Linked DNA regions of Homo sapiens. The protein of the gene in region 3 interacts with the protein of the main gene of each other region in a pairwise test. Each region holds a gene or a part of one and is shown on either strand. Other genes may lie near its edges.

Region 1 (7,489 bases), on a different chromosome or scaffold from region 3:
TATATTACTATTGCTAGCAAGCAGTTACTATTAAGCATGTACTAGACACAAGGCACTAAATTATGCACTTTACAAACATTCTATTTAATTCAATTATTTAATTCGAATTCTCCCTATAAGGTTAAGCACTGTGAGTCCCATTATACAGAGGATCAAGTTAGACCCAGAGGAGGTAACCTTCTTGTACATGTCTCCTGGGGACACATGGGAACTCGTTTCTTCATAATATATTCCTGGGGATAAAACTGCTGGGCCACCATATGTGTCTTCACTTTACTGCGTAATGCCAAATTGTTTTCCAAAGCAGTGGTACCAATTTTTACAGCAAGAGCAATGTTAATAGAAAATGTTTATTGACCACTTCAATGTTTATTTTTAAGTACTCAGTAAAGTATTGTCCATTTTTCCATTGCGTTGCCTGCCATTTTCCTAACTGGTTTGTGGGAATTTATTATATATACACAATGTATGTCCTTGATTAGTTAGAGGTGTAATGAATATTTTCTACTTCATCATTTATCTTTCTTAATTGAAATATGGCCAAATTTATTAGTCTTTTCCTTTAGGATTAGTATACTAGTTTTAAGAAACACCTCCCTACACTGAGATCACAAAAACAATCGTATTATTTCCTCAAAGCTTTATAGCTTTGCATTATTATTGTATAGCTCTGTAGTATTTTCTCAAAGCTTTATAGCTTTCCTTTCACATTTAGGTCTGATGTGGATACCTGGAGTTTATTTTTGCACATGGTGTGACCAGGTAGCTCATTGTCTCAGCACCATTATTTAAAAAGACCATTACTGCCCACTGGTCTGCAGAGCCACCTCTGTCTTAAATCAGACACAGATCTGTTTTTTGGTTCTCTCCATCTGTTTCTCTGGCCCATCTGTTTATCCTTGTGCCAACATCACACAGCCATAATTTCTATAGCTGTAAAAAAGAGAGGATTTCTGATAGGTTTCTCTTCAAGAATGTCTTGGCAATTTTTGGCCCTTTGAGGGTCATATAAATTTTAGAATCTGTGAAGTTGCATAAAAATAATCATGTTGAGATTTAGATTAGTACAATATTGTCTCTATAGATCAATTTGGGGAAAACTGAAAGGCTTAAATACTGACTTTACTAATCCACGAACATAATATATCACACCAGTTACTTAATGTTCTTTGATAGCTCTCAACGAAGTATATTTTTCCCTATCAGAGTTTTGCGTATCTTTTATTAATTTCTTCCTAGTTATCTTATTTTTTATATTATTGTAAACATATTTTTAAATTAAAAAAACCCAAAACAGGGTCCCCCTCTGTCACCCAGGCTGCAGTGCAGTAGTAGCACAATCATAGCTCACTGCAGCCTCCTGTGCTCAAGTGATCCTCCCACCACCTCAGCCTCCCAAGTAGCTGGGACTACAAGCATGCACCACCACACCTGGCTAATTTGTTTTAACTTTTTGTAGAGACAGGCTGGACTATGTTGTGCAAGCTGGTCTGAAACTCCTTGGCTCAAACGATCCTCCTGCCTCAGCCTCCCAAAGTGCTGGGATTACAGGTGTAAAACTCCCTGCCTATATTTTATTTTCTATTTGCTAGTGATACATAGAAATACAACTGGTTTTGCATCTTGATTTTGGATTCAGCATTCACCTAAACTTATTAATACTTATGATTTAACTGTAGAATCTTTATTTTCTACACATAGAAATCTCAGTGCAAAAATATGCAACCATATTATCTACACATGCCAGTTTTGCTTCCCTTCTTTCCAAACCTTACATCTTTTATTTATAATTATTGGCTTACTTCATTGACAAGGCTATCCCACACAAAACTGAATAGAGTTGGTCATAATGCGCATTCCTGTCTTTTTCTTGATCTCAATAAGAAAGCTTTCAATGTTTTGCCATTAAATGTGATATTTGCTGTAAGTTTTTTTGCTAGATATACTTAATCAAACTAATGAAATTCCTTCCATTTCTAGTTTCCTGTTTTTTTAAACACAAAAAGATGGTAAATTTTATCAAATGTTTTCTCACTGAGATAATTATATTAAGCAACACAGAATTAGGTTTCGTTTTCTTATCCAGTCAGATCAACATTTTCATTTAACTGGAGTATTTAACACATAATTACCGATATGTTTGCATTTAAATCTGCCACCTTGTTCTGAGCTATTTGTCTTGCTTATTCTATTTTTCTTTTTCTTCCTTTCCTTTTTTAAAATTTACTACACATTTTTTATTCCATTTTCCCCTTCTGTGCATCTAGTGGTTCACCTAGGAAATATGACATGTAAGAAGTGTGAATTTGAATGCATCTAAACAATATTATTTTGTTTGCTTTTGGTATTAATTTTAACCCTAAATATGCTTAGATTACAAATAGAACTACCACTCAAGGGGCCTGCCTGTAGCCCAAGGAGCACATGAATGAGCAGAGATGGGCAGTAGCAGGGGCCCACAACAGATCTGGAGCATCCCCCAGCCCAAGCTCAGGAGAGCAAACAAGCTTCGATGTTAGCATCACATTATAACATTAAGATTTTTTATTTATTTATTTTATATTTTTTACTTTTTTGAGATAGAGTCTCATTCTTCTTGTCCAGGCTAGAGTGCAGTGGCGCAATCTCGGCTCACTGCAACCTCTGTCTCCCAGATTCAAGCAATTCTCTTGCCTCAGCCTCCCAAGTAGCTAGGATTACAAGTGCCTGCCGCCATGCCCAACTAATTTTTGTATTTTTAGTAGAGACAGGGTTTCACCATGTTGGCCAGGCTGGTCTTGAACTCCTGATCTCAGGTGATCCGCCCGCCTCGGCATCCCAAAATGCTGGGATTACAGGCATGAGCCACCGCGTCCAGCCTACGTTAAAGATTAGTTATAAACACACACAAAATAGGTTTTTATTCATACTAAAGGATCCAGAATGTGATCATATAGACTACATGATTTCCCAAAAATGACAAGTTGATTCCTTAAGCAACAAATTTCAATTGCATATTGAAGATCTTAAGCACTTTACAAAATCACGTTACCCACAATTTTCATTAACAGGACAGGTGCTCTGTGGTATAGCTGGAAGCAGGAAGGTAGGGGCAAGGGAAAGAATGAATTTCATTGCACAAGGTCTTCATAGCCTCTTTGCAAGGACTTACCAAAGTGCTAGAGTTGCATGTGAAACCAGCTCTGTCTGGCCTGAGCCAGGTTTTCTGTCTTGTGAGACTTGATACACACTGTTGCTCTGCCTGGTTCCCACCTGCTTCCCCCAACTAACCCAACATCACCTTGAAAACTCGGCTCTAGTACCCCTCATTTCCTCCAGGAAGCCCCCCGATCTTGCCAGCTCAGGTTCCATTCCAGGGCATCACAGCACCCTGGCCACCTCTGTCTCAGCACTCACTATCCAGGGTAATAGCTTCTCTTTCCTGAGGGCAGGTCTTAACCTCCAGGTCCTCTCTACCTTGCATAGTGGTGCTCGGTACACTTCTGCAGAAGGAATGCTTGCTCTGCAAGGTGAGAGACTTTGTTTTGTCCCCTGCATGTCCAAGTCCCTGCACAAAGTAGATGTTCAGTTAACCACCTGCCCAGTCAATGAGTACATGGAATGCCTGTGTTTTTTCTGCTATATACCTTGCCTCCTGGACTGAAGGTTAGGAGAGCTGGTTTGGAGCCTTGTCTTTGTCACTATCCACTGGTGAGTTGGTAAAAAGTTCCTTCTCTCTTCGGCTATCAGGCTCCTCACCTTAAAAATGAAAGCAGAGAAGTCTCTACAGTCTCCCAAATTTCACGATTTGTTTTCAGGCAGATTGATGTAGCAGCCAAGAGTTCTGGCACCTGGCCGACCAGGTTCAAATCCCAGCACCTCTACCTAGTAGCAGGTGATCTTGAACATGTTCCTTCACTTCTCTGCACCTCCATTTCCTCATCTGGATAAGAGGGATAAAAAATACTACCAAGCTCAAAGGACTGCTGTGAGGACTCCACAAATCAATCCCTATAAGATGCTTACATGAGAGTGGCAGGCACATGCTGTGCATTCGGCATAGCTCTTAAGTGCCACCTACATGCCAGGTAACCTAACTGTCCTGCTGGATATGGTCCAGGTTTCTTAAATGAACAGTAAAAATGCATGGAGCTTTCTTATGCAACTCCAAATCAGTCTCCCAGATCTGTCTTTCCCCTTTGTGTTCAGACCTCCTTCCAAAGCAAGTGTCTGCCATGCAGCCCACTGCTGGAGGCCATCACTCAGGAGCCTCAGTGTGCAGGGTCTAGTGAGACACCCCCCACTCCCAATACCACTGGGCACAGGCCTGGACAAGCAAGCAAGCAACAATGTCCTCTGGTGCAACCAAAGAGCTGGTAAGTCCTCACCTAGAAGCTGGGGATCAGGATGGGGGTGAGTGGTTAGGAAATGGGGAAAAGCATTGGAAGGGGGAAGACCTGGAATGTGGCTTAAGAGGTATCGAGAGTACCCTTGGGTTAGATCCAGCCAGATGGACTCTAAGATGTTGACGCCAGAAGGGGAGAGAGGGCTGGAGCTGGGACAGGGAGAGGCTGGTGGCAAAGAATGGTCATCATGCCAGTCCTGCAAGATGGATAAGACAAGGGTCTGCACAAGGCAGCTCAGCACAGGGCTGCTGTAGAAGATGCAAGCTGGAGAGTGCTGGACTGGGAGGCAGGAAACCTGAGTTCTGATCCTAGAACTTTATTTATTTATTTATGTAAGATACAGGGTCTCACACTGTTGCCCAGGCTGGATGCAGTGGCCCAGTCATAGCTCACTGCACCCTCGAATGCCTGGCCTCAAGCAATCCTCCCATCTCAGCCCCTCGAGTAGCTGGGACTACAGGTATGTGCCACCACACCCGGCTAATTTTTTTCTTCTTTGGTGCAGGATCTTGAACTACTGGCCTCAAGCAATCCTCCTGCCTCAGCCTCCCCAAGCACTGGGATTACAGGCATGAAACACACTGGCCTTGATCCACTTCTCATTACTTAGATGTAACCACCTCCTCACAAGATGTAACCATTCCATCACAATAGAATGACGCACGGTCTGTGTCTGAGGATGTTTTCATTTAATGGCAACCTAAACCAAACCTAAGACAATCCTACTCCAAGCCACGACATAAACAGCGCTGACACATGCTTTCAGTTCACAACTTCATCATCAGCATTCGTATTTTCTTTTTTTCTTTCTTTTTTTTTTTTTTGAGACAGTGTCTTGCTCTGTCGTACAGGCTGGAGGGCAGTGGCACGATCTCGGCTCACTGCAACCTCCATCTCCCGGGTTTAAGCGATTCTCCTGCCTCAGCCTCCCAAGTAGCTGGGACTACAGGTACCTGCCACCATGCCTGGTTAATTTTTGCATTTTTAGTAGAGATGGGGTTTCACCATACTGGCCAGGCTGGTCTCGAACTCCTGACCTCGTGATCTGCCTGCCTCGGCCTCCCAAAGTGCTGGGATTACAGGCATGAGCCACCACACCCGGCCACCATTCATATTTTCTTAACAGCTTACTTGATATCAAGACATGACTTTCATCGTCTTGTCCTGATAAGGAAAGAAGAGAAATACACATAGCAGGTAAAGAATGTGCCGGACCCAAATGAAGGCCAATCCCGTAACAAGAAAGCTCCAGAGCTCTTCAGAGAAATTTGGGCGGATTAAGTAGTCACTTGGAACAGAGTAATGGGAGAATCAGAAGTATCTTGGCCAGGAGTAGAGATTTTGTTCCAGCAAAATAAAACTTTAGAATTAATATTTTAAGTGGAATGTTATTGATTATAGTTTTGTATTCAGTCTGTTCACTTCCTTTTGTTTTATTGCTTATATGTAGCATGAGCAAGTGCTATTTATACCAGGTTTGCATTTGTATGCATGTAAATAATAACATAATTTAACTCTCACTGGCTAGACTATTTTTTCCTTTAAGAAGAATGCATACTTGTTCAAGTTTGAGAAACGCCAGACTAGGATTTCTGAAGGTCCTTCCAAGCACTGTTCCTTGCTACAGCTCTGCTGTAAACATGATGCCAGGCTCCCAAATCTCATCAGTCCTTCCATCATGCGCCACTGCACCTACGATAAAAATCCCAGCTCCTAAGCAGGGCCCTCTGTGTCCTGTGGGATCTGTCCTGCAGTTCCTCATCCCCACGTGAACCATCTCTCAGTCACTGCACACCCCCACGCTGTGCCCCGCCGCCACACCCCCGCCACACACACACACTGCTCGCCGCCCCTCAATCAGCTCCTCTCAGCGAAATCACTTCCTTGGAGACTCCTTCCCACACCCCACCAAACAAGAGCAGCCTCCCCCTTACAATCTCCCACCACATCCTGTACTGTCCTTCACAGGAATGTTGAGCTGAAACTATGTAATTATTAGTGAGATGATACAACCATGCCCACAAAGGCAAGGTCTAGGACTGTCCGGTCCTGTCCTGGACACAGTACTGGCACACAACCAGTACCTTCTGCCAGCCCTGACAATGGTCAACAGCCACTCCAACCCCTAACACACAGTCAGCTGCCCGCTGAAGTCTGAGATGAGAGAAACCTCTCTCAAAGTCCAGGACCAGTGTGTGAACTGAACAAGGCTCCAGGTGATCTTTAGAGCTACTTGCTCTGTGACTTTGGACAAGTTTCTTACCCTCTCTATGATTCTATAATTGTCTATAAAATGGGGATAATAGCACCTAACTGTAGCAAGCTGAATAATTATTTCCCCGAAAAGATGTCCCCATTCTAATCCCCAGAATCTTGTATGGCAAAAGGGACTGTGCAGATGATTAAATTAAGGATCTTGCTGTGGGGAGGTTATCCTGGATTACCTGGGTGGGCCCAATGTCATCACAGGGTCCTTATGAGAGGGAGGTAGTAGAACTGGTCAAAGAAGTCAAAGTGACAACAGATGCAGAACGGAATGACACACTTCAGAGCTGGAAGAAGGGGCCTCTGCAAGCTGGAGAAGGCAAGGAAATAAATTCTCCCTGGAGCCTCCAAAAGGAATGTAGCCCTGCAGACACCTCGATTTTAGGACTTCCAACCTCCAGAACCATAAGAGAACAAACTTGTGCTATTTTAAACCACCACATTTATTACGCAGTAACAGGAAACACAGGACCTGAAAATACGTTTTTGTGAGCATTAAATTTGTTGACGTGTGAACACTGAAAAGCATCTAGCACACAGTGAGCACTGAAATGTGTTAGCTGGGATGATTTTGACTTTGCTGTTCCTCACATAGATAGTTGGCAAAGTAATCTTTCTCTAAAACACACATCCCATCACAAACTCCCCTGTTTAGAATCTTTCAGAGCTCCCCACAGCACAAAACGGAAAACCCCCTCAGTGAGGCACACAGCTTCTTACCCAGTCCCTTCTTACCAAGTGGTGGAGGGAATCTTCCCATACCGCTCCCCCACAACCACCTACCTTGAATCACACAGAACTACATCTTGTCTATTGACTGTCTATGCCCCCTGCTCAAA
Region 2 (7,489 bases), on a different chromosome or scaffold from region 3:
AAGAAACGCTCTCCCACAGGGGTCCCTCCAGTCGCCAACTAGAAGGGTTTCCCTCTCAACACAGACATGTTTGCCTCTTCATCACATGGAGTCACCACGAATGGAGCACTTGGGGACGCAGGTCTAGGTGTCCCCAAGCTCGGTGCCTCTAGTGCCCTCCCCTCTAGGGGCATTTTAGAAGAAGTGATTTAAATCCAGCTTATTTCGGCGGCAGCTGGACTATTCCTTTGCTTATTTGGGGATGGGTGAGGGGCATACCCTTTAGGAAAACGTTTCCAAATGATGTAATAATTTCTCTCTCATCTCTGGTCTTGCTCCAGACTTGGCCTCTTCCTCGCCACTCTGTCCCGGCCTCCCGCCCCCGCAGGCTCCCGTGCGGACTTAGCAGTTCGCGCCGTAGCCCTCCTGGTTTTTTACCGCGCCTTGGTCGCGCGGCCCCCGGTGCGGGCCTCGTCGCTCCGACAGCCCTACAGCTGTCCCTACGGCCCGCACCGACAGCTCGTCCCCGCCACCTCCCTCCGGGCTGTAGGGACGTCGAGATCCGAATCCTCACAGCGCCTGACCCGGGGCCGTGTTGGGTACGGGTACGGCGAGAGCCTTCCGAGCCGCCTCCAAAACTCTCCCCGCGGACCTCAGCAGTCCCTCCACGCGTCGGGGCCCTGCTGGCCGGCCATGCCCTCTGAGGAGACGCGGAAAAGAGCGAGGCATATAGGAAGGTGGGGCGTTTTATCCGCCTCGGTTTTGACCCATCTGCCATGTAGTCTCCCCAGGCACCGAGGGAAAGGACGACGGAAGCCCGCCGCCCGGATCGCTGGCGGGAGAGAGGGCAGCCCGCACGGGAGAAGGAGGAGCCCCGCGGGGTCTCCGCTGGGGGTGGTAATTGGAATGCAGGCCTGGGGGTCTCTGTCCCCCTCCTTGTCTCCTAAAATGCTTCCGGCAAGCTCTGGCGAACCCCGAAGCTGTAGGAAAAAGGTATTTTATTTTGTGTTTGGTAGGGTCGGGGTAAAGGTTTTCCCTGGGACTTCCTCTCCTGGGGCTCCTCCGGGGTGCGTGGGGTAATGTCCCAGCGCAGGTCGAGTTGCAGATCCGAGTCCCCGGGGTTGTTGACTGTCCTTCTTGCAGGACATTTCTTAAGGGGGTGAGATGGATTCACTGTCCAAGACAGGAGTTCACTCAAACGCTGGTGCTGTTCGCTCTTCTTTCCATTCCTGCCTTGTCTCCTAGTGCGAGAAACAGACACACACAACACACACAAATTATATATATATATATATATATATATATATATATATATATATATATATATATAATAGATTGAGATTCTATCATATTCCGAACATTCCGATATAGCAGCTGTAGGCACCATAGACCTCCCTCCCTGCGTCGCGAGAATATATTCTCAGGCAGGAGACAATTTTTACAGATGAGGTCAGCTGTCCCCGCCGGCCGATTCGGGCCTGATGGGTTGGGGGTTCCGATGTCCTAACTGCTAGGATCCCGTTCCAGCCCCTGGCCAGAGCTGTGTACCACAAAGAAGGGAGTTTGGAGAAACCCGGGTAAGCGCGGCAGCGCCCCGCTTGGGACAGCGGATGGCTGAGGACTCCCAAGGGGCGAGAGGGCTCCGGCCTCCTCCTTTCCAGGGCCTTGTTATCTGAGAGGGCCGTTAGCACGGAGGGAAGCTTGGAAAGCCGCTGTCCCAGTGCGCTCCGCATGCGGAATTAACTGTTAAAGCCGGACACGGAGCACGCAGGTGCAGCAGGTGAGGGGCAAAGGTCTGCATTGAGCAGTCCGCAGTGTCCCGGGAAGTCGTAAAGTCGGGACTGAGAAGAAGCAGGACCTAACTCAAGTTTATTTCCTCTCTTGGCCGAGGTCCGGGCTCGTGGAAAACCAGAGCTAGGCGGGGCTACGCAGGGCTGAGCAGGAGTGGCGTCCTAGGGTCTGGGAGCGCGACCCACATGACCTCGCTACGACCGGGGCAGGGCTCCTCCGCCCCGCGGGCAGATGCCGGCCTGGGTGGCCCGGGGAACAGACGATGAATTCTTTAAATGAGCGTTTGCTGCGCACCCATGGGCGGCTCACGATCCTGGGCACTCGCCCGGGAATCCCGGGCGTGCTCTGGGTTTTGGGGGACTCGCCGGTGGAGGTAGATGTGGACAGGGCGGCCGGCCCTTCGCGGGTAGCCGGCTTTGCGCTTACTGCGTCCCGCAGCGGTGGGTAAAGGTCGTAGCCCAGAAGGGGACAAGGGAGGGACCGCCTCTCTCTCCCCGGTGCGCTGCAATAGAGGTTCCTGCGCCTTGGCCCTTGCAGTCCATCCGCCCAGAGGTTCGCGCCCGTTTTCGGAGCTTATTATCTCAGGTAGCCCAGAGGTCCGACTGAGCTGGAATTAGCCAGGCCTGGGACCCCTTTGCTGCCCTTTAGAGTGGTGGCAGGGACTTTTCCAGCAAGGATAGGCGCGGCAGGCGCGAGTGCGGACGGCGCGCCCATTAGGAGGAGGCCGGGTGAAAACCTCTCTTCCTCTCCAGACCCATTTCGTTCCAAGCATTTGGAATGACAAAATTAAACCCCAACCCTGGCGGCTCGAGTCTAATGTGACTGTTTAACCCTGGGAAAGCGATGCTCCCATTTTCGAAGGGGCTCCTCCTCTTCGGAGCGGGGAGGCCGCCGGCGGGTGTGCCCGGCCCGCGCGTTCTGCGGGTGTTCGAGCCTCGGCTCCCCACTCGGTTCCGCAGCTTAGTGGACCTTGACGAGCGCTGGAAACGTGTCAGGCTCCAGAGAGACAGAGTCTCTACCTAGGCGGCTGAGGATGTCAATTAAAATCGACCAGGGAAGGGAGTTGGCGGCACTGTGCGCCGCCGGGGAAGGCGAGGTGGCGCGGGCCACCGGGTGCACTCACCGCACGAGAGGCCGCGGCTGGACTGGGACCGAGCGCATCCCTGTGTCTCAGGGGGTTTGCTTTGTGCAGGATGGGACCTTATTATTTTTAGACAGTGGGGCAAACGTGTCTTTTAAAGAGATCCGAAGGGTGAAACTAATGAAAAAGGAAATGAATTACTAGAAAAGCCGTGAAGGGATAAAACCGGGAGCAGCAGGAAGTTGAAGGAAGGACGACCGAAGCTAGGTGTATCTGCACCTGCCTCTTGACACGCCAAAAACAAAGGGGGGTTAAGGCAAGAATGTAGACTAAATGCTGTGAGGATTAGGGTAACGCGAGCCCTCAAGACGTCTCGGAGACCGCCTACAGGGCTGCAAATACCAGGGTCCATTTTTAAAAATCGAGTGCTCCTAGAGGTGGGGTGGGGGTGGGAGAGCCGGGAAACCAGCAAAGCAATTTCTTTCCATTGAGTAGACAAAAACTTGGGCCACAGGGGCATCTTGTATTTTGAACAGTGACCCGATGACCCCGCTGGCCAGGTGTAGACAGCCTCAAGTCCTAAATATTTGCATTGTCCTAACTTCCCAGTTGCCTCGGATTTTAATGCCCTTTCACTCTGCGTTACAGTCAATTAGTGATTACTTAGCATCCACATTAGTAGACTGAAGCCAGAGACCCCAGTGCTGGGAGGAGAGGAGGAGCCGGGGGAAGGAGGATGGGGCTTGCAGTCCTGCAGGGATGGAAAATTAGTTAACAGGAATTAACTGTTCTTTCTATTACCTTGTTATGAAATCTGCTTTGAGCTTCTTGTTTTGGACGGGAATGGTGGGTATTTAGTGGATTTCTCTGGCTGGGAAACTTGTGTCCTCTTCCTATTGAAGAGTTGTGGATGGGGGGCGGGTAGGTGGAATCGGATAAAGGGACCTTGTGCCTTTTCTTTCAATTAAGGAAATTTTTCAGGAATAGAGCTGAGGAGCTTTGGGACGCATAGGGACTTGGAACCAGTTTAGCTGAAGAGAGGACAAAAGGAGTAATATTACCCACTTTGAGAAACCCACGGTTGGAGACAGACTGAAGCAGCAGTTTGCTGTGGCAGCACCAAATACATGGCTGCATAGACGGCTGAATTTGGAGAGGGCTGGCTGGGGTGCCGTTGAGGCGATTTTACTTTTGTAACAATGTTTTGCCTTTCTCCCTTCCTGGAATGAGTGTTAACAATGCCCATAACAGAGATGTGGGCAAATAGGGTCCACTGCTTTTAGTAAAATTCCATCGCGGTCTGGTGGCTTGAATTTCTCTTTCTTCCTCCCTCCTTCTCCTTCCCCTGTTCCCCCAATTTCTTCTGTCTATCCCTTCCTTCCTTTGCAAAATCTTTGCAGGGAGAAACATGGGATAGTGCAGGAATTCACGACACAGGGGTTTTACTCGGCGGGGGGGGCGGGGAGGAGGGCGGTCGTGTGTCCAGCAGGCTGCACCGTGGTGGAGCCATCTCTCTTTCTAGGCGCCCTGGGAGGGAAGCACAGGTGCTGGGTATAGGACAGAAGCCGCCCTGGAGCTGGGCTCTTATTGTCTGTGGTAGGAAGAAATCAACTAAAATTAGATGCCACTGTGAGGTTTTACCTTATTTAGTCCTCAATTTTATAGGATCCCTGATCAAAATGGAGCACAAGTCAACCATTTTGAGGCATTGCTTTTGGGGGTAGGTGGACAGGTTGGGTTTAATTGGTGAAAATGAAATGGATTCTCCCTTGGAAAATGGACTTTGGGGTTAACTGTATGAGCGGCTGACTGGAAAGTCGTCTTGGGAGGTGAGTCCTACCTCCTGCTGTAATTTTGGTGGATTTCTTTTCTCAGATCTCCCCACCCTGTTCCCTCTGTCAGTCTGGGTCTAGCCACAGATGTTTAACTGCAGTACCTCACCCCCACATGTCTTTAAAGTATAATTTGCTTTAATTATGATGTTAGGGGGTTAAGAGATTGGTTCTGGGAATAGCTTAATAGAGACAAAACTTGCAGCCAAATTAATTGAAAGTTTCTTGCTATGAGGGAAAGATTGCCAAACATATGGAATACTGTTACAGAGTGAGACATTAGAAAAATACATTGTAGAGATTTAGCAATGATTAAATGTGAAAATGGAGTGGAAATAGACGTGTCTACAACATTTCCATACACAAACATGGATTTGCTTAATGTAATTTTCTGTTTTATTTGCAATTACTGAGATATATGATATCCTACTGAAGAATACTAATTACGTGACAATATATCACCTAGGAGATAATCCCTGCAAATACATATTTACATTGTGTATTTCATTTGTTACTCGACTCCTTATGTTAAAATATCCAAATTACAGCCTTAAAATGATAACATCGAAATTATCTCCAGTTTACTTTTGAATTTGTTCTTTTATTGAAGAGGTTTCTATTTTTGACTAAGCCGAAAAAGAACAAAGGAGATTTTCAAAGGCACCCCAAGCCACCAAATAAAGCAAACAGTAAAAGTGGGAAGGATTCCGGAAAGCAAGTGAAGGGAAAGGACAGCTTCAGGTGTGATCATTTCTGATGTAAGAAGGATTTTCTGACTTTTTTTCTGGTTGCTAGTCATTTGTCAAGACAAACTAGAAAAAACTAGAAATTAGATAAAAAGACGTGAGTACACTGATGCATTTTAAAACATGTCAGTGCATATGATGATAGAGAATATGATTTACCTTCAATGCGATGCTAATTTTTAAAATTAGAATTTTTCTAATATTTTTGTGGCTGGCCCAGCTCTCTTTCTTTAATGCTGCTGTCATCATTGATGTTCAATGTGCCTTTTCTCTTTATGTTTTAAAGAATTAATGTTGGAATTTTGTGCTTTAGCTGTGTTATGTGATTATTACTAGGTTGTGAAAATCCCTTAAGAGGAATTTTATAAAAACATTTTGGAAAATTCTGTTATTGTCTCTTCAAGATACGCTGATTTAGAATAAGTGAAAATATAAAAACGAGAACTATAAACGGTTCAACAAAAATGAATGTTCTTTAATGACAAAGAGCCAGGGTTGGGGGGCGGCACACACCAGATTTGTCATGGAAAACTGAGTCGTGGGCCTCAGGTTTTCCCTGCGTGGGGACTGCATGGATGAATCAGGCCTTCTTCCTTTGGTCACAATTACCAGGTGATTTAAAAGGGGAATTGTGACCAGAAAACAGGATTTTATCATCAGCGGTGATGGTGGCTACTTTGAAATGGAAAGTTTTATTTTTGAAATATTTATCCAGTAATAGACCTCTTAGTTAATTTAATTTTAATGTAACTATACCTCCGTTATAAATCTTTGACCTGGACATTTCAGAACTCAGGTATGTGTTTAGGCAGGTGTGCCACAGCTTGGTATATCCTGTAGCTTCACCTTGTTGATGCATTTTAGAATTAGTTATTCCCCGACTAAATCAATGAGCCCCCCACTGACAGTATTTCCCAAGCCTGCCTTTAGAAAACCATCTTCCTTCTTTCTTACTCAGGGAACCTGAGGCAACAGAACAGCAATGTCTGCAATTTGTTGTTTTCTCTTCCTTACATGTGGGAAAGGAATGGAAAATTTCAAGAAAAACATTTGCATACTATTTCAGTTGCATATGTGATTCCTTAAAGCCCCATTTGGCGTCTCCTTTCAGTTAGTAGTCAGTAAAGAAACTTAACAAATAAATAAAATTAAACGTTTTTGGAAATACATATTGGCCAAATGTTATTTGAGACAGAGCTCAAAAAACTGCTTACTTCTGGAGGGAAATCACCAGCAAAAAGGTTTTGGGCAAAAATCCCAGATGGAGGTGGCTTTGATTGAGCACAGGTGGAAGCCATCAGACCCAGAGTAAAAGAAGGTTTAGTCCTAATTCGGCCTCAAACTGTGTACCCGTAGGGAAGCCCCTTATTCTCAGAACCTTTTAAACGTAGACAATGAATGTCCGCTTCACAGGGTGTCTGGGAGGAGGGAATGAGCTTGCCAATTTGAAAGTACTTGACCAAGTTTGGAGTGCTGGTGGTCTTAAGGCACTCAGAGACTGGGATCACAGCTCCCATTTCACAGACACAGCCGCCCCTGGGAGCACTGCTGGCTGTCCCAAGAGGATGGCCACCTGAGGGGGAATACTGTGGGGTCTGCAAACAGGGAGACCCGGAAGTGGCTCCCATGGACCCAGCTCCTTTTCTCGAAAGGAGCAAGAAAAACCTTGTCCTGAGCATTAGGCTGTCAAGTCAAAGCATGAAACAAAAAGAACACTTCATCCAGAAGGCAGTTAAAAAGCAAAGGGAGTTAAAAAGCAAAAGCCTCACAGGAGGCACATCAAGCTGGCACATCAAAGTACAAACTTTACAAAATATTAATCTGGTCTCAGAGCATCGTTAAATAAACATTATTCCCTTTTAAAATTATTATAATAGAGGTAGGGGCTCACTATGTTGCCCAGACTGGTCTCGAACTTCTGGGTTCAAGTAATCCTCTCACCTTGGCCTCCCAAAGTGCTGGGATTACAGGTGTGAGCCACCGTGCCCGGCCTAAACATTCCTATCAGTACAAAGTTTTAAAAATATTTAAGTAGCACATCAGCATTATGATTCCAATGG
Region 3 (7,489 bases):
GCTTTCCGCTCTCCTGTGAAATGAGCCTGCTCCCTTCTCCCAGCCCATTCCACCTGTCACATCTTCACCATGCTAACAACTATTAATCCTTCAGATCTTAGCGTAACAATCCCTTCCTCAGGGATGCCTTCCCTGAGCCCCCAGTCAAATTTGGATCTCCTTTATACATTCTCCTGGTCTCCCTCTCGCACTTTTTTCTTGGTAGGCTTCATCATACTCAATAAGGATGTATTTGATTTTTTTTTTTTTTTTGAGACGGAGTCTCGCTCTGTCGCCCAGGCTGGAGTGCAGTGGCGCGATCTCGGCTCACTGCAAGCTCCGCCTCCCGGGTTCATGCCATTCTCCTGCCTCAGCCTCCCGAGTAGCTGGAACCACAGGTGCCCGACACCACACCCGGCTAATTTTTTTTTTTTTTTTTGAGACAGAGTCTCGGTCTGTCCCCCAGGCTGGAGTGCAGTGGCGCGATCTGGGCTCACTGCAAGCTCTGCCTCCCGGGTTCACGCCATTCTTCTGCCTCAGCCTCCCGAGTAGCTGGGACTACAGGTGACTGCCACCACGCCCGGCTAATTTTTTGTATTTTTAGTAGAGACAGAGTTTCACTGTGTTAGCCATGATGGTCTCGATCTCCTGACCTTGTGATCTGCCTGCCTTGGCCTCCCAAAGTGCTGGGATTACAGGTGTGAGCCACCGCGCCTGGCAATTTTTTTTTTTTTTGTATTTTTAGTAGAGACGGGGTTTCAATGTGTTAGGCAGGATGGTCTCGATCTCCTGACCTCATGATCTGCCCACCTCGGCCTCCCAAAGTGCTGGGATTACAGGCGTGAGCCACCACGCCCGGCTGATTTTTTTTTAAAGAGAGTCTTGCTCTGTCACCCAAGCCGGAGTGCAGTAGCATGATCATAGTTCACTGTAGCCTCACACTCCTGGGCTCAAGTGATCCTCCCACCTCAGCCTCCTGAGTAGCTAGGAGTACAGGTGCACACAACCATACCCTGCTAATTTTTAAATTTTTTGTAGAGATAGGTTTTCACAATGTTGCCCAGGCTGACCTTGAACTCCTGGGCCCAAGCGATCCTCTGGCCTCAGCCTCCCAAAAACTCACACCTGGGATTACAGGTGTGAGCCAGCACGCCCTGCCAGGATGCGTCTGAATTGTGTATCTGTATGATCCTTTAATTCACATGCGTCTCCCCCAGCCGGAGTGTACTTTGTGCGGGATGGGCCTGGGTGTGTATTGATGACCACTGGATGTCCTGGCTCGTAGTGGGTCCTCAGTGTGGACGTGTTGAGGAGGTGAATGCAGAGCCTGTGCCGTGGCAGGTGGGGATGGGTGGGGACTGGGATTCATTTGGCTTATGAGCAGTGCTAGCTCTTCCCTCCCTCCCCTCATATGAGTGCTTCCTGTGTGCACTCATGGCTTCTCACTCTTGATTTCATTTGATCTTCTGATGACCCAGAGAGGTTGGCATGGTCCTCCCCGATTTACAGATGAGGCGGCGGAGGCTTTGATGGACGGAGTTCCTTGCTCTCAAGTGGCAGAGTCAGGAGCGCGACCAGGCCTCCCACTTCCAAAGCCTGTGCTGTAAACTCTCACTTGCATTTCCCAGCATTTGCCCTGGGAAGGATTTTAATGGGTTTCTGTGGTCAAGCGAGTGTGGGAAACTGGCTTACTCAGCTCTGCTCACCACCAGCCTTTCAGAGCACACGAATGTGCCTGGGACCTTGGGCAGGGGTTCCCTACCCAGCTGCCACTACATTCCGATGCTGGAGTCCCACACCAGAGACTCTGACGAACCCGGTTGGGGTGAGGCCTGAGTGTCAGGCCTCAGAAAGCTCCCAGGTGGCTCTCGCTGCAGCTAGGGGTGAGAACTGCATCGTTTCCCCTCACTCCTTCCTCCTGGGGAGCCCCGTTTTTCAGGGGGCCTGTCATGAGAAACGGCTTCCTCAGTCCTTTCTCTTTATTGGCCCCACCTCCTCTCTCCATTCCTTCTCTTTGGCCCAAAAGGGTTCCTCTGAACCAGACAGGCCTCCCGTTTCCTGAGGGCGTCTGTGCAGTACTTGCACAGTGTTGACTGCATTTAGTCCTCAGGACAGCCCTCCCGATTCACAGAGGAGGGACCCTGTGCTTGGTAGAGGAAGGGATTTCGAGGTGGTTCAGCAAGACTCAAAGGCAAAATTAGAACTCAGGCTTCTGGCCCCAGGGCTTCTGGGTAGCGCAGGCCGCCTTTCCCACCAGCTTCAGAGCTCCTTGAGGACAGGGATGGTGGCTCCTTCATCTCTGTCCCCACAGCACAGGTGCCCAGGAGCCACAGCCAGTGTGTAGGGCTTTTGTGACCTCCTATCCTGCCTGGTACGGTGGTTATTTGTGGCCATTCTCCTGGGCTGTCACAGGTTGTGAACTGGAGGACCGGCCAGAGGGGCCAGGAAGGCCTTTGTTCTCTAAGGAGGAGAAGCCCTTGGAGGAAGCAGCCGTGGCTTTTCTACCTCAGAGGCTTTGAAGACAAGGGAAGCCTTTGGGCAAAGAGAGGATTCCCCTGAGTGCATGTAGTAAAGAGCTAAGGCGCTGTCACCCATTGTCTGAGACCAGGCCCGAGGCGCCCCGAGAATAGCCCTGCTGCGCCAGGCCTCCATCCACCACACCCCGAGAGTGCACTTGGGCAGCCCCTTATCTGAGGAGGGTGTGGGGCGGGCGGAGCGGCTGTCAGATAGGTCCCTGCCCGGAACACCGTCCTGAGCATCTGTGGCTGGGAGCTCCAGCGAGGCCCTCCTGGGAACTGGGGCTCCATCCCGAAGGCAGTGGGAGCCATAGCCGGGTTTAAACTGAGGTGCGCCTGGCTCAGATTTACATTCTAGAAATGTCTCCCTGGCCACAGGAATGGACTGGATGGAGATTGGCCTGGGAAGGGCCCCGCTGTTGCAGGAGCTTAAGGCAGAGGCTGTGGTGGGCTCAACCTTCCGGGCTGGGCCAGGGGACAGGATGGGGAGTTCTGAGTGGGCAGAGGCAGGATCTGGACTTGCTCAGGATGCCTTGCTGGACCAGGGAGGAGAGTTGAGGGCAACAGCAGGGAAGTCCTGCAGGCTTCTCGCACCCACCCCTCACTCACCCATCTGTGTGCCAGCACTTCTGTCTGTGTGCTTTTCTTAACCAGGGCTGCTCCTTCCCTGGGTTCCCCACCACACCCCTGGGCCTGGCACAGAGTGGCTCAGCAGGTGGGCGTTGAACAGGGTCAGCCTCTGCCCAGGAGCTAGCAGGTGCCTAGAGAACAATCGAGGGGTAGGGCAGACACAAGAGACAGGAAGGGGTGGAGCACATGGCCCCCACCCGCCTCCCTCCCAGTTCAGGGCAGAATGTTCTCTTAAAGGCAAAATTAGAACTCAGGCTTCTGGCCCCAGGGCTTCTGGGTAGCACAGGCCGCCTTTCCCACCAGCTTCAGAGCTCCTTGAGGACAGGGATGGTGGCTCCTTCATCTCTGTCCCCACAGCACAGGTGCCCAGGAGCCACAGCCAGTGTGTAGGGCTTTTGTGACCTCCTATCCTGCCTGGTACGGTGGTTATTTGTGGCCATTCTCCTGGGCTGTCACAGGTTGTGAACTGGAGGACCGGCCAGAGGGGCCAGGAAGGCCTTTGTTCTCTAAGGAGGAGAAGCCCTTGGAGGAAGCAGCCGTGGCTTTTCTACCTCAGAGGCTTTGAAGACAAGGGAAGCCTTTGGGCAAAGAGAGGATTCCCCTGAGTGCATGTAGTAAAGAGCTAAGGCGCTGTCACCCATTGTCTGAGACCAGGAGCTCCCAAGTGTCTAAAGGGGCTTTGGTTTGCTTTTTCCGTTCATCCTCCTTGGAGCTCAACCCCTTGGCTTCAGTCTGGACGTGTGAATCTTCCTTTAGCTCAGGACATTTTTCTCCTGTGATCTCTCTGATGATTTCTTCTCCTGCATCGTTCCCTGTATGTCCTGTAGGCACCACAGGGAATATTAGACTTCCTGCATCTCTTCCAAGCATCCTGTAGCTTTTCTCTCATTTTTTCCTCCCTCCTGTTTTTCTTCTGGGAGGTGTTATCTGTCTTACAGGTTTCTCTGTTATTCAGTTCCCTTGTTAAAAAGTGTTGATTTTGGCCACCATATTTGTTCATTTCCAGGAACTCTGCTTTGTGTCTGATTGATCCTTCCTGTGTGGTGGATGTCATTAGCACCGACACTGATAAGACTTCCCTTCCACCTTTCCTTTCATCCGGTCTGTGTGTAAACTCAGCAGAGGCAGGCGTGGGGAGCCCCAGAAATGCACCGGCTCTGGGCTGGGCTCTGGCAGATTCATATGAATGGGAGAGTCTCTGTCTGGCCAGCCCTTCTGTTTTGTTTTGTTTTGTTTTGTTTTGTTTTGTTTTGTGACTGAGTCTCGCTCTGTCACCCAGGCTGGAATGTGTTGGTGTGATCTCAGCTCACTGAAACCTCTGCCTCCCGGGTTCAAGCGATCCTGGTGGCTCAGCCTCCTGAATAGCTGGGATTATAGGCGTGCGCCACCACGCCCGGCTAATTTTTGTATTTTCAGTAGAGACAGGGTTTTGCCATGTTGGCCAGGCTGGTCTCAAACTCCTAACCTCAAGTGATCCTCCCGCCTTGGCTTCCCAAAGTGCTGGGATTACAGGCAAGAGCCCCCGCGCCCAGCCCCTTCTGTTTTTAAGAAAGATAAACCCCTAACCTCTGAAGAGCTTTTGCAGTGACATGGGCATGGACACCACCAGGTCTCGCTGTGATGAGGTGGGTGGAGGCTTCTCCCTTCCTCCTCCGCCCTTTCTTCCCTGCCTCCTGCTCCTCCTCGGCCCCTCCCTTTTGCTGTGATTCCCCACAGCCCTTTTCAGTTCAGCCAGGATCTGAATGGCCCCTGTCCAGGGCTGGGTACAGTGGGGCCAGCAGTCACACAGCCGTGTATCCAGCTGTTGCCACCTGCCAGTCACACCACCACTGTGAGCAGGTACTGCCATTAGCCCCATGGCACATGTGGGGAAACTGAGGCACGGGATGGTTGGCTAATCTGCCCAAGGTCACAGAGCCAGTGAGTGGCGGGGCCGAGATTCAAACCCAGGCAGTGTGAAGTTCATGAAGGGAAAAGCTGAACTTGCTGGAACCCCTTCAGACTCCACGCTCCTGGCCTGGCTGAAGGACCCTGCTGACTCTCTCCCCCAGCTCACCCCTCCGGGGGCTGCCGTCCTGGCTGTGACCTGGGCCTGGTGTGCCTTCACAGCCCACTCCTGCTGTTGAACTCCCCCTCTTCCCTCAGGCTCAGCACAGTCGGGGTGCTTCCTAGGGGTGGGAGTGCACCCTCGCAGCACACCTGCCTCCCTCTTGGCAGTCGCTGTGAGCATAGTGAAGCCGGCCATTGCACCTTTGCCCATTCCCCGGGTGAAACGCCAGCTCCAGCAGGGCAGGGACTGAGTCTGTGGCCCACTGTGGCTGGCATTCAGGCAACGTGGCCTGCGTTGACCCTCAGGTTGGCTGCACTTGCCTGCAGGGGAAAATGCCCCCTCTGCAGCCCACTCTGAGGGCCCCTTCCCTTCCCCGCCTCTCACCCCTGCCTTGGCACATGCCCTTTGCTTGGAATACCTGCCACCTCCGGCCCCCTCCTGGAGGGCAGGCTCTGCACTGCACTGCCCGGGCCCCTTGCACTCAGTCTCCCAGCCCTTCCCAGATTGTCAGTTGGCATCATTTGGGCACCTGTCAACCCTGCCAGGCAAGGTAGGTGAGCTCCTGGAGGACACTAGGAAATGTCTGTGGCATGAATGAGGGAGGGACATAAAGGAGCCCTTAGCGAGTGGGGACACAGACGTGTTCCACCAGAGTGCAGCCTGGCCCTGCCTCTGGGAGCTTTGCTGTGGACACAGACGTGTTCCCTCAGAGTGCAGCCTGGGCCCTGCCTCCAGGAGCTTCGCTGTGGGAGGAGGTGACACGGGAGCCGCAGCTACCAGGCAGCGAGCTCTCGCCCGGGCTGTTCTAGGTGCTGGCTACAGGAGCCCACAGAACAGACCCCCTTCCTTCCTGGGGTTCTCCTCCAGCCAAGGGCTTCATCCCTCATTGGCTGGGGCCGTCTCCTTGTTTGACAGATGTGGAGGCTGTGAATGCAATAAGTAAGGCTCCCGGAACTGCCTTGAAGTACTCAGGTTGCCTTTACCAACCCTTACTCCTTGTGAGGATCCTGGAGGTAGCTGCCATTAATATTCCCCTCCTTTGGGCTGGACGCAGTGGCTCACACCTGTAGTCCCAGCTACTTGGGAGGCAGAGGTAGGAGGATCACCTGAACCCAGGAGGTAGAGGCTGCAGTGAGCCAAGATCGTGCCATTGCACTCCAGCCTGGGTGACAGAATGAGACCCTATCTCAAAAACAAACAAAATGACCCTCTTTTTTACATGAGGAAACTGAGGCACAGGTATTCAGCCATTGGCCCAGGTCCCACACTGGTAAGTGCTGGGGCGGATCTGGACCCAGGCGGTGGCTCTGCACCTGCGCCGCTGGTAGTGCTGCCATGAAGGACCCACGGGCAGGGGTCTCTTCCCACTCTGTCTCTCACACACACCTGCCCGTCTCCTGCAGTCATCGGCCCCTTCCATGAGCCTCTGCTGTGTGGCCGGCCCTGCTGTGCCTGAGGACACTGGAGGAAAGCAGATGGTGACACCAGAGGGAGACAGTGCAACAGGAAGCCGTGTCGTTGTCACCCATGAGGGCGAGGCCTGGCAAGGGGCCAGGCAGAGGAAGGGCCACCTTGGCTTCAGATATGGGCGACCTCAGCTCAGGCCCCCCCGCCATTCCCAGCGCTCCTCACCTCCGTGAGGCCCTCAACAGCCATGGCTGTCACCCCACCCACCCTCCTATCTGGACCTGCTGGGGTGTGAAAGACAGTCCCGTGCTGAGGGTGCCTTGGATGGGTTCTTCTTAACCTCAGAGCCCCTGTTTCCACCTGGAATTACAGCCTTCTGTGAGGCTGGAAAGGTAAAACAAGAAGGCTGTAGAAAACGCCTGCCACACAGTATGCCGGTCCTGGAATAACATTTTGTTGTGACATTGATGAGGAAAAAATAATGATTCCCGGGACCATTGTCTGGGTGGTGGTTGTGGGTTCTCCCTGTGCTGGTGCAAGTTCCTCTGGGCTCTCCTTTCCTTGTGCATCCTTGGGATGTGTCCGCTGGGTGAGCTCCCGGGTCTCCGTGGGCCCAGTGTGAGTGAGTGTGGGCCCGTGTGCGCCCTGTGATGGGATGGCGTTCTGTCCAGGGTCCATTCCTGCTTTTGGCCCTGCCAGGACGGGCTCTGGCCACCCAGGACCCTGAGCTGGAGGAAGCGAGTAAATGTCTTACTGGTTTTTTGTTTTTTATTTATTTTTTAAGACAGGGTCAGGGCCGGGCGCGGTGGCTCACGCCTATAATCCCAGCACTTTGGGAGGCCGAGGTGGGTGAATCACGAGGTCAGGAGATCAAGACCATCCTGGCTAACATGGTGAAACCCCGTCC

Evidence for each region. Proteins that work in one complex are often made in the same cells at the same time.
Region 1: the proteins of TRAPPC6A (region 3) and TRIM35 interact in binary tests that used the Homo sapiens proteins (3 or more experiments, as listed by UniProt).
Region 2: the proteins of TRAPPC6A (region 3) and LHX4 interact in binary tests that used the Homo sapiens proteins (3 or more experiments, as listed by UniProt).

Annotation. Positions count from the first base shown.
Region 1 is NC_000008.11:27,301,135-27,308,623, forward strand, and holds part of TRIM35 (E3 ubiquitin-protein ligase TRIM35), read right to left. Parts: intron 3,710-7,489; exon of another isoform or gene 3,627-3,709; intron 1-3,626. UniProt on the Homo sapiens protein: E3 ubiquitin-protein ligase that participates in multiple biological processes including cell death, glucose metabolism, and in particular, the innate immune response.
Region 2 is NC_000001.11:180,232,913-180,240,401, forward strand, and holds part of LHX4 (LIM/homeobox protein Lhx4), read left to right. Parts: intron 1-7,489. UniProt on the Homo sapiens protein: May play a critical role in the development of respiratory control mechanisms and in the normal growth and maturation of the lung. Binds preferentially to methylated DNA.
Region 3 is NC_000019.10:45,168,190-45,175,678, reverse strand, and holds part of TRAPPC6A (trafficking protein particle complex subunit 6A), read left to right. Parts: intron 1-7,489. UniProt on the Homo sapiens protein: May play a role in vesicular transport during the biogenesis of melanosomes.